Regions from separate parts of the Homo sapiens genome. Here region 2 is linked to region 1. The links come from fine-mapping of genetic effects on gene expression. Tissue or cell type: whole blood. Region 1 holds a variant in brackets; the other region holds the start of a gene. All regions are shown on one strand. Distances are from middle to middle. Region 1 has its middle 14 kb from the start of ITGA9. Region 2 holds the start of APRG1 (APRG1 tumor suppressor candidate).

Region 1 (8,340 bases):
GATTTCATACAAAACATTAAGTGTTTGCCAGATGCTAAGTTGACAAACATACTTTATTCAGAGTATTGGATGGTTCAACTCTGGCGATAGCAGCAAATGGATTCTGTTGTGGTTTGAACTACATCAACTTGCTTAGGCTGGAGTTATGTTTCCCAGAATCCCCTTCTCTGAGTGGTCTCAAGTTAGAATTGGTCCAGAGAATAATTTGCACAACGTTTGGAAGGTAGAAGTGAAGCAGCCACCATTATTCTCTGAAGATTCTCAGGGTTGGATGTGACAGACAGATGCAGAGGTGCTGGCGGGTTCCATTTATCCTTGCTGTCCTCCTCTCTGTGGCCTGGTATTCCTCCTGGCTGATGACCTTGTTGACCTGCAGTGGTCCTGGCCCATCACAAGATGCATGGGGACTGTAATTAATTTATCATTGCATCTCCAGTGTATGGTGCAGATCCTGTCTTATCAGTATCTTAATTGGTCATTGAATAAACACATGTGCATGGTTTTATATGCATTGATTTTTGGCTACTCAGCATTGGGAAATAATAATACAATTTTCTGGAGAATCATCCCTGTCCCACATTTAGTCAATGTATGTTGGGTAAGGTTTATTTCACACCTAGCTCCACTGACCGCATGAGTTCAGCCAGGCCAATCAAGTTATTACATTCACTTGGCTACAGTGGTTGGCCTGGGGATGGAACATGACTCAGCCCAAGCCAATAAGATGTGGTGAGTCTTTTGCTGTGACTGTCACAACAGAGGCACATGGCGTTTTCTGCTGGACCTGAACCTGGGAGGATATAGGCCTGACTCTGTTGGCAGCCATTTTGGCGCCACACTGAGCCTGAGAATGAAGCCAACATTGTGAATAGCAACGTAATGAGAAGAAACAAGAGTGGGTTCTGATAATATTTGAGCCCCCTGGATTGAGCTGTGCCTGAAGTCAGTATCCCCTGGATTTCAATTATGTGAACCAATAACCATCCTCCCCCTTATTTTTTCCCCTCAAACCACTATGGAGTGGGATTTCTGTGATGTGGAGCATAAACTGTCCACTCACACTGAATAGTTTTCAATTTCCCTTTAGGAGCAAAACGCCTTTTTCAAATGAATGTTCACACAGAATCCCATTACACAGCAATGTTAATAGCAGAGCTCACGAGGACCAGGACCTGCTCTCTTGCCCTCCATCCCCCAAGTTCTGAAGCAGTTCCTGATGCCTCTGTGGAATGCTGGTCTTGGCAGAACACAGTTAGAAAACCATTAATTTAGCCCATGTCTGTTATTTTAAAGGTAAGAAAACTGAAGTTCAGAAAAGGGAGGGGACTGACTCAATCCCAGCTGCTGGCAGATCTGGGACTGCAAACCAGCCTTCCATTGCTCCACACAGGTGTCTCTTCTCACGTGGAATCACAGCATTGGATGGACTGAAAAGAGGAAGAGGCTGCAATGGAGCAGCACACCTGGTGCGTGGGGATGCCTGGAAAACAAAATTAGGAGAGCCCTGGGTCAGCATTGCTCTGGCACTGGCTGGGCCGGGGGCCATCCTGATTCTAGAATTATCTTGGTTCCTGGGATAGAAATGTCCCCAGAGTGGAGAAGTTCAGTTCAATCCAACATCCTTATATTGCAATGAGGATAAAGACCACAGACCCTATGGCCTGTATGACCCAGCTGCCCATTTCTAGGAACCCATTCCTACAGAAATGACAACATGCGTGTGCAAACAGCAACAATGACAAACATACCCTGGGATGCTTTCCCTCTGTGGTTTGTTATAGTAAGATAGCGGCTACAGCTTATATATCATCAACAGAGGACTGGCTAAATGATGGCACTTCATTCTGCAGAATCTTTTTTTGTAGTCAAAAAGAACAAGTTAGATCTATATGTGTGAACATGGAAAGGTGTACATGACTTAAGTAGAAAAATTAAGTTGCAGAACGATATTTATAGTATAATTTCATTCTTACAAAAACCGTTTTCTAAAACTGTGTGTGTAAAAGGGCTGGAAGGATACATCCACAGTCTTAATACTGGTTACATCCGGGGAGGAGAGTTGGGGCTTGAGGCAGACTTTGGCCATTCAATTTGGATGGGGGCCAGAGACCCCCGCCTCTCAGATCTGAGACTGCTGTACTTACTTTCCTGCCTCCTTTGCAGCACAGGCCATGACAAAGACTGTTAAATCACCTTGGGTGGGAGGGGACAGGGCGTTTCCTCTATCTGGCAGAGGGGGCTGCAAGGTCAAGTTCCTGACAGAAGTGGTGCTGTTTCCTACTGTAGCATGCAGTGGTTATGTACTGTAGTGCTTAACGGTGGCAGAGGCAGCTTCAAACACACCAGCACACTGGTCAACTTTGGGGTCTTACTCTTGGAAGCCTGGCCTGGAGCTTCCCTCTCACATTCTGTGAACCACCCAGTATCCTTCTAGTAAACTCTTCTGCTTCATTGTTCAGAGTCAGCTGAGTTAGAGGGACTTCTGATTATTTTATACATGTCATCTGATACCTAAATATATGTATACATTTTTTAACCAAACATATTTAAGAGGATACAGATGATCTCGCCTAAAGGAGCATGCAGTGCATAGAGGTGTGTGCCCCTGCCCTGTTTTGTATTTTATTTTATTTTTTGAGATGGGGTCTTGCTTTGTTGCCCAGGCTGGAGTGCAGTGGTGGGCTCTCGGCTCACTGCAACTGCCTCCTGGGTTCAAGCGATTCTCCTGTCTCAGCCTCTCGAGTAGCTGGGATTACAGGTGCATGCCACCACGCCTGGCTAATTTTTGTATTTTTAGTAGAGGCGGGGTTTCACCATGTTGGCCAGGCTGGTGTCGAACTCCTGACCTCAGGTGATCCACCTGCCTTGGCCTCCCAAAGTGCTGGGATTACAAGTGTGAGCTACCACGCCTGGCTCGCCGCCCTGTTTTGAACCAGGGTTTTCATGAAAGAGGTGAATGTGCTGACCATTAAACAGCAACTACAGCAAACTTGGTTTGCAGTGAGATGTTTGCTCGGAAATGTTCTTTTCTTTTTAAATAAGCAACTTCCTGAGCTGCAAGTTAGTCTTAGGCATGGCTCCCTCACCGGGAAAGTTGTGTCCTGTGCAGGCTGCACTTCCCACTGTCCCTGTGCATCTGCCTGGGCCTTCTTCCTCTTGGTTCTTGGGTAGACTGACTCTGTCCCCTGAAAGCCTGGTCCTCTGAGGAGACTGAAGTTTGCATGTCACACAGAGCCGGGAGATCTGGCCCTGGATGAAACTAGGGGACAGCTCCCAACGGCTGCTCAATTAGTGAGTTTCCTTTGTACTTCAACTTGGGTAAGCTGGGCTAATTAATAAGTGGACTTGAGAATGACAAACCTTCATGGCCAAGGTCCAAAATGTCATGTTGGTGGAAGATGGCAAAAGTCTGGTGAGAGGGATGTCAGAAGTAAAAGGACTAGGTACCAGGAAATGAGGAATCAGGATAGCATTGTCCACAACTACTAAAGGTCCATGTTGATTTATTTCTTTGCTTTTTCAATGACCTTTTGATATTTGAATTTCACACATCGCTGTCTTAGTTTGCATCCTCCAGAAGCAGTACCTGAGACAAGGATTCAAGTGCAAGTGGCTTAATTGAGAAACAGTCATTCAGGGATCACCATTCAGGGACTGGAGAAGTAAGACAGGGAAGGAAGGAAGCCAATGGAGAGTGCGTTATTGAGCAAGTTACCACTGTGGGCAACTGGAGCTCAATGCCTCTGGGGAACTCTGGGAGCCAGTGTAGAATATACAGCTCAGAGTTTTTTCATTGGAGCAAAGGGAGTCATTGGTTGAGTGTTGCTCCAGGGAAGTGTTCATTCTCTAGCATTTCTGGCCTGCCATGTGTGTGGGCAGAGAGGGCTCCAGTAATCAGGAAGCCTTCGACAAAGAGTCTTAGATGCTGGCTGTTGGAAGTCAGGCCACATGCACAGAAATATCACATGCTGGTGGCATCTGCGTGGAGCATCCACAGCATCTGCTACAAGTTTCTTTCCTTCTTTGC[ACAGCT/A]CATGAAATTTGCCTGCCTTCTAATCAGTGCGTGGAGACTGCAAGGTAAGCAAAGAGTTTCACTTGATCTTAGGTGATCATAGACGACTGATCTCATTTATATTCTGTTTAGGTATCCATGTTTATAGTCAAAATATATCAAATTGCTTAATATCCATACCACACACAGAATAAGATAACATACCTGGTTTTTAAAAAATAACTTCAGCGGCAAAATACATACTATTTTAACAGCATCCAAATTTGAGAGAGAGGTAAAAATATATTCCCTCTTATATAGTGAGATGGATGGAAACCAGAACAGAAAGCCCTGAACCCTTGGGGTTGCCCATGTAAATACTGTGACGGCCTACAATGCACTGAGGGAGTGGCTACTTGGTGTTGCCTATGGTCATTTGCCACCTTTTGTGATGAGCCTCCAACTGGGACACCTGGCCATTAGGTCCTAGTTACTCAGGAAGCTAACCTGTTAGTCACTAAATTCACTGTACTGTTGTTTTCCTAGGGAAAAATAAGTGCTGATGCATGATGTATTGCAGTTGTTTGAAAACATGCCTCAAGTTTTACATCATCTGTATCTTAATCCCTTTGGGCTGCCACAGCAAATTGCCACAGACCAGGTAGCTTAGAAACAGCGGAAATTTATCTCTCAGTTCTGGAGGCTGGGAAGTCCAAGATCAAGGTGCTGACAGATTCAGTGTCTGGTGAGGGCTCACTTTCTGGTTCGTAAATGGTGCCTTCTTGCTGTGTCTTCACGTGTTGGAAGGGGCAAACAAGCTCCCTTGGGCTTCTTTCATAAGGGCACTAATCCCATTTACGAGTGGGTGGACTTAAGTGAGGAGTGGTTCGGACAGCCAACAAGACTATCAAACACCCACCACAATAGGTTGTTTTAAAGATGAGGAAACAGAGCCTCAAGGAGGTAGAGAAATGCCGCATGTTCCACAACTGGTCAAGAGCAGAACTAGGATTTGAACCCAAGTGGTCTGATGGCCCAGCTCCTGCTGTGTTCTTTCCTTCTGCTCTGTCACCTCTGGTATGGGTAATGTCTGCTCTTGCTCACGTACTTTGTAGGGGACAGAGCTTTTAGAGAATAGGAGGTTTGGGGGAAGAGGGGAAGGAAAGGAGGGCAGGTGGGGACTGTTGGAACAGGGACCCAACCCAGGGAGTCAGACTTGTTGGAGGCTGCCTCAGGACAGTCAAGGACACTGAATCCACTGACTCTCCACTCTCCCTCCTCTCTGTTAATTGGTTTGAGGAGAGGTCTATGTTAAAGAGCTGGAGCCTGATGAATTGTTATGATTGTGGGAAGGAATGGATGCTCACAGGCTCAGACAGAAAAACAAAATGAATTGGCCTATCTAGATACTTCCCACAAAATGCTTTCAGTTCCACGTTAATTCCAAGTTTGTCTCTTAAGCACATTTGGAATATGTAAATAATCTTAGAATGTCACAATCTAGAATGTAATTTAGATAAGCTGAGAACCAAAAGAGAAGACCGCATTGCCTTGTCTGTCAGGCCTGTGTGGGTCCGATTTAATGACTCCTGATGGTATGAGGTTGAATTGGGCAGCAGATTGGACACATAGCTATAGTGCCAGCTATTCATGTTTAAAATGTCATTTTAGACTGGGTGCAGTGGCTAACGCCTGTAGTCCCAGCACTTTGAGATGCTGAAGCAGGTGGATTGGTTGATCCTAGGACTTTGAGACCAGCCTGGGCAACATGGCGAAACCCTGTCTCTGCAAAAAAACAAAAACAAAAACGAAAAAACCCAAAAACCAAAAAAATGAGCTGGAAGTGGTGGCACACACCTGTAGTCCCAATTACTCTGGAGACTGAGGTTGGAGGTTCTCTTGAGCCCTGGAAATGGAGGTTGCAGTGAGCCGAGATCATGTCACTGCACTCCAGCCTGAGCAACAGAGTGATACCCTGTCTCAAAAAATAAAAGTAAAAATAAAATGTCTTTTAAAATGCAGTCATGCACCACATAATAACATTTTTGTCAATGATGGATGATAAGATGCTGGTCCCATAGATCATAACGGAGCTGAAAAATTCCCATTGCCTAGTGACGTAGCTGTCATAATGTTGTAGCATAACATGTTACTCACATGTTTGTGGTGATGCTCATGTGTGAGGCTGGGAAAGGTGGCTCTTGTCTGTAATCCCAGCACTTTGGGAGGCTGAGGTGGTAGGTTGCTTGAGGCCAGGAGTTGGAGACCAGCCTGGGCAACACAATGAGACCCGGTCTCTACAAAATAACAAAAAAATCCAACTTACTATGCTGCCACATAAAAAAGCATAGTATATACAATTATGTGCTGAACATAATACTTGATAATGATAATAAATGACTATGTTATTGGTTTATGTGTTTACTATACTATATTTTTATTCATATTTTAGAGTGTACTTCTACTTATTAAAAAAAGTTGACTGTAGAACAGCCTCAGGCAGGTCCTCTAGGAGGTGTTCCAGAAGAAGACATTGTTATCATCAGAGATGACAGCTCCATATGCGTTACTGCTCTGAAGACTATCAGTGGGACAAGATGTGGAGGTGGAAGACTGATATTGATGGCCCTGAGCCTGTGTCGGCCTATGCTAATGTGTGTGTTTATGTCTTCACTTTTAACAAAATGTTTAAAAAGTAAAAATAAATTTTAATAGAAAAAAACGTGCAGAATAAGGCTATAAAGAAAGAAAATATTTCTACAGCTATATAACATGTTTGTGTTTTAAGCTGTTATTATAGAAGAGCCAAAAAGTTAGAAAAATTTAAACATTTGCAAAATAAAAAAGTTATAGTAAGCTTAGTTTATTGCTGAAGAAAGAAAATTAAAGAAAAAAAATTTAGTGTAGCCTAAGTTTTCCGTGTTTATAAAGTCTACATTAGTGTACACGAATGTCCTAGGCCTTCACATTCACTTACTCACTGACTCACCCAGAGCAATCTTCCAGGCCTACAAGCTCCATTCATGGTAAGTGCCCCACACTGGTGTACCATTTTTAATCTTTTATAGTATATATTTTACTGTACGTTTTCTTTGTTTAGATACAAAAGTATCTTTGTGTATCTAAATCTTTGTGTTACAATTGCTTACCTTACCTTTGTGTTACAATTGCCTACAGTATTCAGTACAGTAATGTGCTATGCAGGTTTGTAGCTTAGGAGCAATAGGCTACACCGTGTAGCCTGGGCATATAGTAGTCTATACCATCTAGGTTTGTGTAAGTATGTTCCAAGAGGTTTGCACAACAATATTGCCTAACAACACATTGACGGAGTCTCACTTGTCGCCCAGGCTGAAGTGCAGTGGCATGATCTCAGCTCACGGCAACCTCTGCCTCCCAGGTTCAGGTGATTCTCCTGCCTCAGCCTCCTGAGCAGCTGGTATTACAGGTGCATGCCACCATGCCCGGTGAATTTTTGTATTTTTAGTGGAGACAGGGTTTTGCCATATTGGCCAGGCTGGTCTCGAACTCCTGACCTCAGGGTGCCTCAGCCTCTCAAAGTGCTGAGATTACAGGCCTGAGCCACCGCGCCCGGCCCTAACAATACATTCTCAGAATGTATTCCCATCACTATGTGACGCATGACTGAATAACTTCCACTGGGTTCAACTGACCCCCCATCTGGTTGTTACTTTGGTGCACTTATTTCCATTTAATCTGTCCTCCTTACTAGGTGGATACTATTATCAGATGAGATATGGAGTCCCTATAAGGTGTAGCAACTAACCCTGTGTCTGGCAGCTGGTAAGTGGCAGATCAAGATTTGGACTCAGGTCTTAAGTCTCGGACCATAGCTAGGTCAATTGTTCCACCACAGAGCCATCCCACACTAGGCAGGATTTCCTTGTGTCCTGACTCAGAAAGGCAGCTGTGGCAATGCGGATCTGTTATGTGGCTCTAACTACCATCCCCATCAGCTCACCACTGAGGCGAAGAGGTATGTGTTTGTTATCTATTACTGGGTCATAAATTACCCCCAAATTTGTACTGGTTTTCTATTGCTATGTAACAAATTACCTCAAAGCATAACGGCTTAAAACAATATCAATTATACTACAGTTTTTGTTAGTCAGGAATCCCGAAGTGGCTTATCTGGGTGCTTCTGGCTCAGGGTCTCTCATAAATGGCAGTTAAGCTATTGGCTGAGGCTGAAGGTTTGACTGGACCTGTAGGGTCCGCCTCTGAGGCGGCTCCTGACATGGCTGGCAAATTGGTGCTTGAGGTTAGCAGGAGGCTTTACTTCCTCTCCACATGGGCCTCTCCACAGGCTGCTTGAGTGTCCTCACGAC
Region 2 (8,340 bases), 56 kb before region 1:
GATCCAGTCACCTCCCACCAGGCCCCTCCTCCAACATTGAGGATTACAATTCAACGTGAGATTTGGGTTGGGACATAGAGCCAAACCATATCACCCTCCAAGACATGAACCAACAAATCAAAGTTATGTCTGATCCGACATTGTTGCTAGATCATCCTGATTCAGGTCAGGACTATTTTGGTGGCAGAAGCTACTTATGACTTTGGTCCTTGTGCAAGAATAAGCAGACTTCCACGTTGTGGATTTTACTGTCGTTGCACCCTCTGAAAAGGAATGCAAGGCAGGCTTTCCCAGAAACTTTCTAGACCTTGCATCATAATGCTCCAACAAATATTATCTGTAAGTCCAGGTACTCATGAATATTTCCAGCCCCAAGTAGATTAGTTCCCTTCTGATGCTCAGTGACTATGTCTCCATTAGCAGTAAGTACTTAGCTAGAATGAATACAGTGCCCAAATCCCATAGAAATGGAATGGAACTTGGCAGTGAGGAATTGTAACAGAGTACATCCATTTTTCTAAGAGATAAAATGAATAATTAAAAAAAAATTTTTCTCTTTCCCCCTTTTCCCCGATTCCTACTTAGCTCTTTGGAAATGCAATTATAACCTTTTACCTTCCCTTCACCAGACACTCCCTACAGGGCAAGCGCATCTAACTTTGTCCTAAGAAGCTCTGCTGGGAAGCTCTCTCCAACCAGGAGGTTGTCTTAAGAGAAAACAGTTAATTTACATCCCAAAGTACGTCCACTACAAAACTCTGTCCCACCTGGAGCGTTTTGGCCACCTTTACAATATAGTTCTGCCCACAAAGGCACCAGTAGTCACCAGCTCAGCTACCCACTAGATAAAGCCCCGAAGCAAGTTATGTGGACCCCTAGCTGCTCACTTCCTCTCCTGTATGCCATTCATGCAAAGCCCCCTTTTAAAAGCACTAACTTTCGGCCGGGCGTGGTGGCTCATGCCTGTAATCCCAGCACTTTGGGAGGCTGAGGTGGGAGGATCGCGAGGTCAGGAGTTCGAGACCATCCTGGCTAACATGGTGAAACCCCGTCTCTACTAAAAATAAAAAAAAAATGAGCTGGGCGTGGTGGTGGGCGCCTGTAGTCCCAGCTACTCGGGAGGCTGAGGCAGGAGAATGGTGTGAACCCAGGAGGCGGAGCTTGCAGTGAGCCAAGATCGCACCACTGCACTCCAGCCTGGTGACAGAGCAAGACTCCATCTCAAAATAAATAAATAAAAAATAAATAAAAGCACTCACTTTCTGCTCAAAAAGTGAGGTGGTGCCCCTAAGGCAGGAAGTCTGCATATGTTCTCCTAAGTTAGCTTTGGAATAAAAAGTCACTTTCTTTATACCAGGCCTCACTCTTGTTAATTGGACTCTGCAAGCAGCTGCATTTTGGTTACACTTTGGTACATTCAGTAATAGCTTTTCTTTTCTTTTCTCTTCTCTTCTTTTCTTTCTTGAAAGGGTCTCACTGTCATCCAGGCTAGAGTGCAATGATGCAATCATGGCCCACTGCAGCCTCAATCTTCTGGATTCAAGTGATCCTCCCACTTCAGCCTCCTGAGTAGCTGGAACTACAGGTATGCACCACCCACCTGGCTAATTTTTAAAATTTTTTTGAAGAGACAGAGTCTTTGTTGCCCAGGCTGGTCTTGAACTTCTAGCTCAAGCAATCCTCTTACCTCAGCCTCCCAAACTATTGGGATTACAGGCATGAGCCCAGCCCATACAGTATTTTTCTAATATGTGAGTGGATGGACGGAACAACAGGCTGTGTGTATGTACATAAATTTATATGTCTATTTATATTGAGTCATTAAAATTTCTTTGAAACCGTCTTTAATTGCATAATATTTTATCCTATGAATATACCGTTGTTTAACTCATTTTTCTGCTGTTGAACATTTTGGTTATGTGCAGTCACTTTCATTCAGTACTCCATAATGCTCTTACTTTTCTGTAGGTAGAAGCACTTGAAAAAACAATCAGGACCAACCTGTCTTTCCGTAAGTAGCCTTTGGTGCCAAACAAGTGGATACATTTCAGATTATCATGTGGCAGGTTTGTCTGGTGCCATATCCCCTAACACTCTAAGTCGCAGTGCACGGGTCAATATTCTGAGTTGGTATGCTTTTAGAACAACACCTTTCAACACTGGGCTCTGCTCAATTTGATGTGTCAAAGATGAGGGGAAATAGCAATGACTAAAGCATACTTTCTATGGCCAGAGTACGTGGGTGATAGGTGAGGGTGCAGGAAGGGCAGCGCAGCATGCCTTCCATCCTTGAGCCACTTGTTTCTATTACAACCATCAATTTTCTCTCACCTTAATTTGGGATCCTCTTTGGTTAGGTGGTGGTGGTTGTTGTTGTTATATTCTTTAGATATGTTCACACTCCAAGCATGTGAACATTGTCTTAATGACACTTTGTAAACAATGCCACCATTTAAAAATTTAAAGATTTTCCTCCAGATTAGCCTAAAATGCAGATATGGTTTTATTCCTTATAATTTTACAGTGGCTTACTCCCCTGCTTCTGGAAGACTTCTTGGTTGCCCCACACCCAGATTAGGCACTCTTTCCCATTTAAACAGGAGTATTCAGTGTGTTTCCCTATCTCTGTTCCTGTTTCTCTTCCACTACTGTATGTTGGGAGTGGGTGGGACAGATAATTTGTCTTTAAAATTCACAGGTCTCCAAGAGAAGTTGAATCAAGATCTGGCATTGATCATGAGATCCTGGACATAATGTCAATGCAATCATTGGACAAGTCTTTTGGGATATCTTGGGGAAGAGGATGAGTATATTTTTCCCAGCAGCCAGGAAGGAAATGAATATTTATGATCCAGTGTGCAGATCATGGTAGATTGGATTATTGTTTTCAATTCTTCACTCTCTCCCTGTGTTTGGATTTCACAGCTACATACTTTGTTATATGACTTTGCGGTATCTCCTGTTAGAATAGATGGAGTCCATTTCTCTCCTGGCATTGGGTTTGGGTGTGTGAGTTTTGGGTGGATAGAACATACGCCACATCTGAGTGAAAGATGACTACTATGTTGTGTAAATAAACACACAAACCAAAACAACAACAAGAACAACCAAAATAAATTTCAGGATAATGTCTTGAGTTTTTAAAAGTGTGACAATGATATGTCTTGCTATGAATTTCTTTAGGTTTATCCTGTTAAGAATTTGCTCAGCCTTTTTAACCTGTAGGTTTTAGTCTTTTGCCAGATTTGGGTTATTTTCAGCCATTATTTCTTTAGGTGTTTTTTCAGCCCTACCCTACTTCTGAGATTCTAGTGACACAATGTTGGATCTTTTTTTGTAGTCCCACAGGTCTCTGAGGCGCTGATCATTTATTTTTTCAGCCTATTTTCTCTGTGTTGTTCACGTTGTGTAATTTATTGTTCTGTCTTCCAGTTCACTGATTCTTTCCTTTGGAACCCTCCATTCTGCTATTGAACCCATCATTGAGGGTTTTTTTTTTTTTTCCTGGTATTGTATATTTTAGTTCTAAAATTCCCACTTGGCTCTCTATAGCTTCCGTTTCTTTGATGAGAATTGTTTGTTTGTTTCAAGCATGTTTGTAATTGCTCATTGAAGTGTTGGTAGGATAGCTGCTTTAAAAAATCTTTGCCAGATATTTCTAACATCTCTGTCATCTTGGTGTTGGTATCTACTGATTATCTATTTCCACTCAAGTAGAGATTTTCCTGGTTCTTGGTATGTCTAGTGACTTTCAACTGAAACCTGAACCTTTTGGATATTATGAAACTCTGGATCTTCTGTTTTAGCTGGCCCTTTTTGACACACTTTGACGGGGAAGGGCACCTAGTTGGGGGCACACCATTACTGCCAGGTGAGGGCAGAAGTCTAGGTTTTCCACTTGGCCCTCATTAACACCTGGAGTTGGGGAGGGTCTCCTTATTACTGTTGGGTGGAGGTGTAGAGTTAGGGTTCCCCAGTAGGCCTCCTCTGATACCCAGTAGGCCTCCACTAATTACATATATGTATACACATATACACACACACACACACACACACACACACACACACACACATCTTATCTTAATCCCAAATATGATAGTACAGGATAACATTAAGGTTGTTTGACCTAAGGGCAGGATTTAGTAAGTATGTGAAAGAAATCTCAGAAGAATTCCCGCAACTGGGGTTAATTAGCATCCAAGATGAAGTTGTTTTACCCTTCACAGGGGTGGAAGTCCAGACTTCCCATATGGTCTCCACTGACATGGGGACATGATATGGTGGGAAGGTCTCACTGCCTCCCACCAGGGATGCTTCCTACGTGGCCTTTTCTGACATCACCCTGGACAGAGTGTGCTTCCTTTACAGCTTGGCAGATGTTAGAGGTCTAGGCTGTCCACTCGACATTTGCTGGCATGAATGGGGGTGGGCCTGCAGTATTTTCTGTGGTGTTTGGCTGGAGTAGACAGTTGTCTGAAAGCTTTCTGTCTTGCTAGGCTGCCTCTGTCCTGGTTCCTTGGCTAGAGAGAGGAGTTCTTTTTTGGAGATTATTTTTTTTTTTTGGTCTGAATTCAGCATTTCCAGGTAGCTGGCTTCTTCAGCTCCAAGTCAGGGATCTATGAAGCAAAGAGAAAACCCAGGGAACTCACCACCATGGCATTCCTTAGGTCCCAAGGTCTCTAGCTGGTCTGGCTTCGCTTCGTCTTTTAGAGTGTTATATTTGTTTTATATATAATGTCCAGTGTTTCTAGTTGCATTCTGTGGGAGGCATAGGGAGAAGTATGTCTATCTTCCCAGAAGCAGAAGTCTCCAATACAATGTGATTTTATTTATGTAAATTTTAAAAGTTGTATGTATTGTCACAGATATACATACTTTTAATAAATGTATGCATATATAAACTGGAAGGATATATAGTTAATTCACCATGGTGTTTATAACTGATCTTCCCTGATCACTACCACCCAATCTCTGTTTCCTCACACTTCTTTAGTTTTTTCTTATGGCATCTAGTATTGTCTGCCCTCATGTTGTGTGTTTATTTGTTTATTGTCTTTTTCCTCATACTAGAATGAAAACTCCAAGAGGGCAGGAACATTATCCATCCTGCTCACTGTTGCATCCTTAACACTTAGAATATGTAGTAAGCACTCAATAAGCATGTACTGAGTGAATAAATTAATGAAAAAGTGAGTAAGAAAGGGGATAAAATGTATCAGTACTTTCTCTGTAATTAAAAACAAAACATTTTGAAAAGACTGAGAATATCACCTCTTTCTCCAATGAGAAGGCACATGGAAATGCAAGGGAGTATGAGAAACACAGTTATGGGCAGAATATGGACTCTTATTTTATAAGTCAATTAATCACAAATACTGCTATTTTAAGGAACCAATTACTTGTAACACAACTCACAACTGATCAAGACACACCAGTGGGAATGAGTACAGCTGGAAAAAGCTCTCTATTGTTTTAATTCCTACTTTATTATTATTGTTTTTTTAAATTTTTTAAACAACTTTTAGGTTCAGAGGTACATGTGCAGCTTTGTTATATAGGTAAACTCGTGTCATAGGGGTTTGTCGTAGAGATTATTTTATCACCCAGGTACTAAGCCTAGTACTCAATAGTTATTTTTTCTGATCCTCTCCAGATGCTGGCAAGGTTGCGGAGCAAAGGGAACACTTATACACTGTTGATGGGAGTGTAAATTAGTTCAACCATTGTGGAAAGCAGTGTGGTGATTCCTCAAAGAGCTAAAAACAGAACTACTATTTGACCCAGCAATCCCATTACCAGGTATATACGCAAAGGAACATAAAGACATATGCACCTGAATGTTTACTGAAGCACTATTCACAATACCAAAGACATGGAATCAACCTAAATGCTCATCAATGACAGATTGGGTAAAGAAAATGTGGTACAGATGCACCATGGAATACTATGCAGCTGTAAAAAAGAATGAGATCATGTCTTTTGCAGAAAAATGGATGGAACTGGAGGCCATTTTCCCTAGCAAACAACTACAGGAACAGAAAACCAAATATCACATGTTCTCACATACAAGTAGCAGCCACATAATGAGAACTCATGAACACAAAAAGGGGAACAACAGACCCTGGGGCATTCCTTCTTTTCTAGATAAGTTTTTCTTTTGGGATTTGAGCCTCTTTGATTTGAAATTTAGCATAGGCCCAGAAGAAGACTCTGTCCTCTGAGTTTAATTTTTCCTAATCTCCTGGAGAGGCAGCATTGGCTACTAGCTAAGAGTACAGCCCCTGGGGCCAATGCTATGGAGTGAATGTGTCTCCCAAAATTTGTGTGTTGGAAACTTAATCCCCAGCACAACAGTGTTGGGTAGTGAGGCCTTTGGGGAGGTGTTTAGATCCTAAGGGCTTCGCCCTCATAAATGGATTAATGCCACTATAAAAAGGGCTTGTGGGAGTGGATTTTCTCTCTCTTGCCCTTCTGCCTTCCACCATGTGAGGACACAAAAAGAAGTTCCACACCAGATGCTGGCATCTTGATCTTGGACTCCCCAGGCTTCAGAACTGTGAGAAATAAATTTCTGTTCTTTATTAATTACTCAGTCTCTGATATTCTGTCATAGCAGCACAGAACAGACTAAGAAAGCCAGTCTGTCAGTGTTCAAGTTCTGGCTTGACCATTTGCTCACTAGGCAAGGGAACTAATCTGTAAGCCTCATTTTTCCCATCTATAAAATGGGAATAATAATAGCATCTACCTCTAAGCGTGGCTGTAGATTGAATTACTACTTATAAAATGCTTAGAATGGTGTCTGAAACACAGTAAGAGCTCAATTAAAATTGTCTATTGCCAGCCTCTTGTTAATAGCTTATAAGATTGAAATTATTAATTATTAACTATTAACATGCAAGAGTGCCAGGTAAAATGCAGGTTGAACAAAACTAAAGCCAGGCACTTTTGTGGTTGGCCACAATAGGCAAGATGCTAATGACTATGGTCACCAACTGCCCAGAACCAACCCCTGCCAATGCCAGGAAGACCTTACAGAGAAGAGCCTAAGCCAAAAGAGGTGCCCACGTTCGCCTGGAGGTTGGCAAAGGGAAGACTCATTAAAAAAGACAAGCAAAGACTGCAGGGAGGGGCTTCACCAATCTGGCTGTCCTTTCCAGCCCTTGTTGTTTTCTCACACACTGTCCTGCCTTGAGAGCAGGATTTCCTTCCTTTCCCTCTGACCTCAGAGGCACCCCACTCTAAGTGGGTCTATTTCATCTCTCTGTGCCCTCATCCTGCAGGGATCCTTGAGATGCTGTGTCAAGCTGAACTCTAGTGTTTGCAAAGCTAATGATCACTTGGAGCAGCCAGGGCTTCTCTGGGGCAGGCCCGAAGGAAAGCTCAGGAGGGGGCCCCTGCTTTAACCTTGGCTCTAAGTCTGTTGGAGAAAACTCAGGATTTCCTGAGCCTAAAGCCAGAATTGCCATCAGGTTCTCTATTAGTCCTATTTGTGTTCTATTAGTCTGTTGGTGACCACCTTGCTGCATTACCCTGGGATAATCCAGGCTTGTTTTGCTCTACCCTAGGTCTGTGAGGTGAATGGCTGCCCAGTAATCCTACTGCCAGTATTCAATGAGAATACACATGCTCACTTTGTTCCTGCCTGTGTCAACCGTAGCAGCTTCGCAGTCTTAACCACTGGGTCTAACCTTCTTGGCCTTTTCCTTTTACCTCAACTCTGCTCAGTCTCGAACTTGCCCTTCATTCCTGACCTTTGATTATATTCTCTCAGAGTTAACCCTAATTCTGGCCTCCAGGGCTCCGTAACTATTATTCACAACCAACCCTTGGACGAAGCCTGATCCCAGCTGTCCCAAGGAATCATCCTGTTTGGTCCAGACCTGACCCCTGGATCCTGCCCCATCACAGGCTCTTGAGGCTGGTTGGGGAGGGAATGGAACTGGTTCATGGGGCCTGGTTGTATGCTTGAGGCTGACACTGTCATATATAATGAACCTAAGCCCACATGGCACTGTCCACCCCAGCCATGGCTGAATCAGAGGGGAGGCCAAGAGTTTGTGAGTGGAGCACCAGATGAGTCTGATAGAAACTTTCAGACCCCTGTAGGTGGGGAGCTAGACTTGAGCTTCTTACATAAACCCAGGAGGCACTGAAGACTGGTCCATCCATTAAACCAGAAGTAAAAAAAACAAAAACCAAAGACCAAAACCCTCTGCTATCCAGTCTGGGAAAGCAGAAGAAGCTGCACTTTGCCCCGGTCAGTGGATAGAAGAAGAGTTGCCTGTGAGCAATTCGAGGCTGAGCCTGAACTGTGTGCGTGTGTGAAGTTCAGATTCA

What was found. PIP is the estimated chance that this variant, and not a neighbour inherited with it, causes the effect. A credible set is the group of variants that fine-mapping cannot tell apart.
Region 2: it holds the start of APRG1, and the variant in region 1 is the best candidate, but not a certain one, in a credible set for the expression of APRG1 in whole blood (TOPMed, PIP 0.77).

What each region holds. Positions count from the first base shown.
Region 1 is chr3:37,433,551-37,441,890 of GRCh38, forward strand. It overlaps a transcript of APRG1 not described here. Among named protein-coding and RNA genes, the nearest start is that of ITGA9, 14 kb to the right of the region's middle. The variant ACAGCT/A (reference allele first, on the strand shown) is at 4,028.
Region 2 is chr3:37,377,573-37,385,912 of GRCh38, forward strand. APRG1 (APRG1 tumor suppressor candidate) reads left to right here and starts at 3,505. Exons shown (of 5, transcript NR_171174.1): 1 at 3,505-5,799; 2 at 7,569-8,340.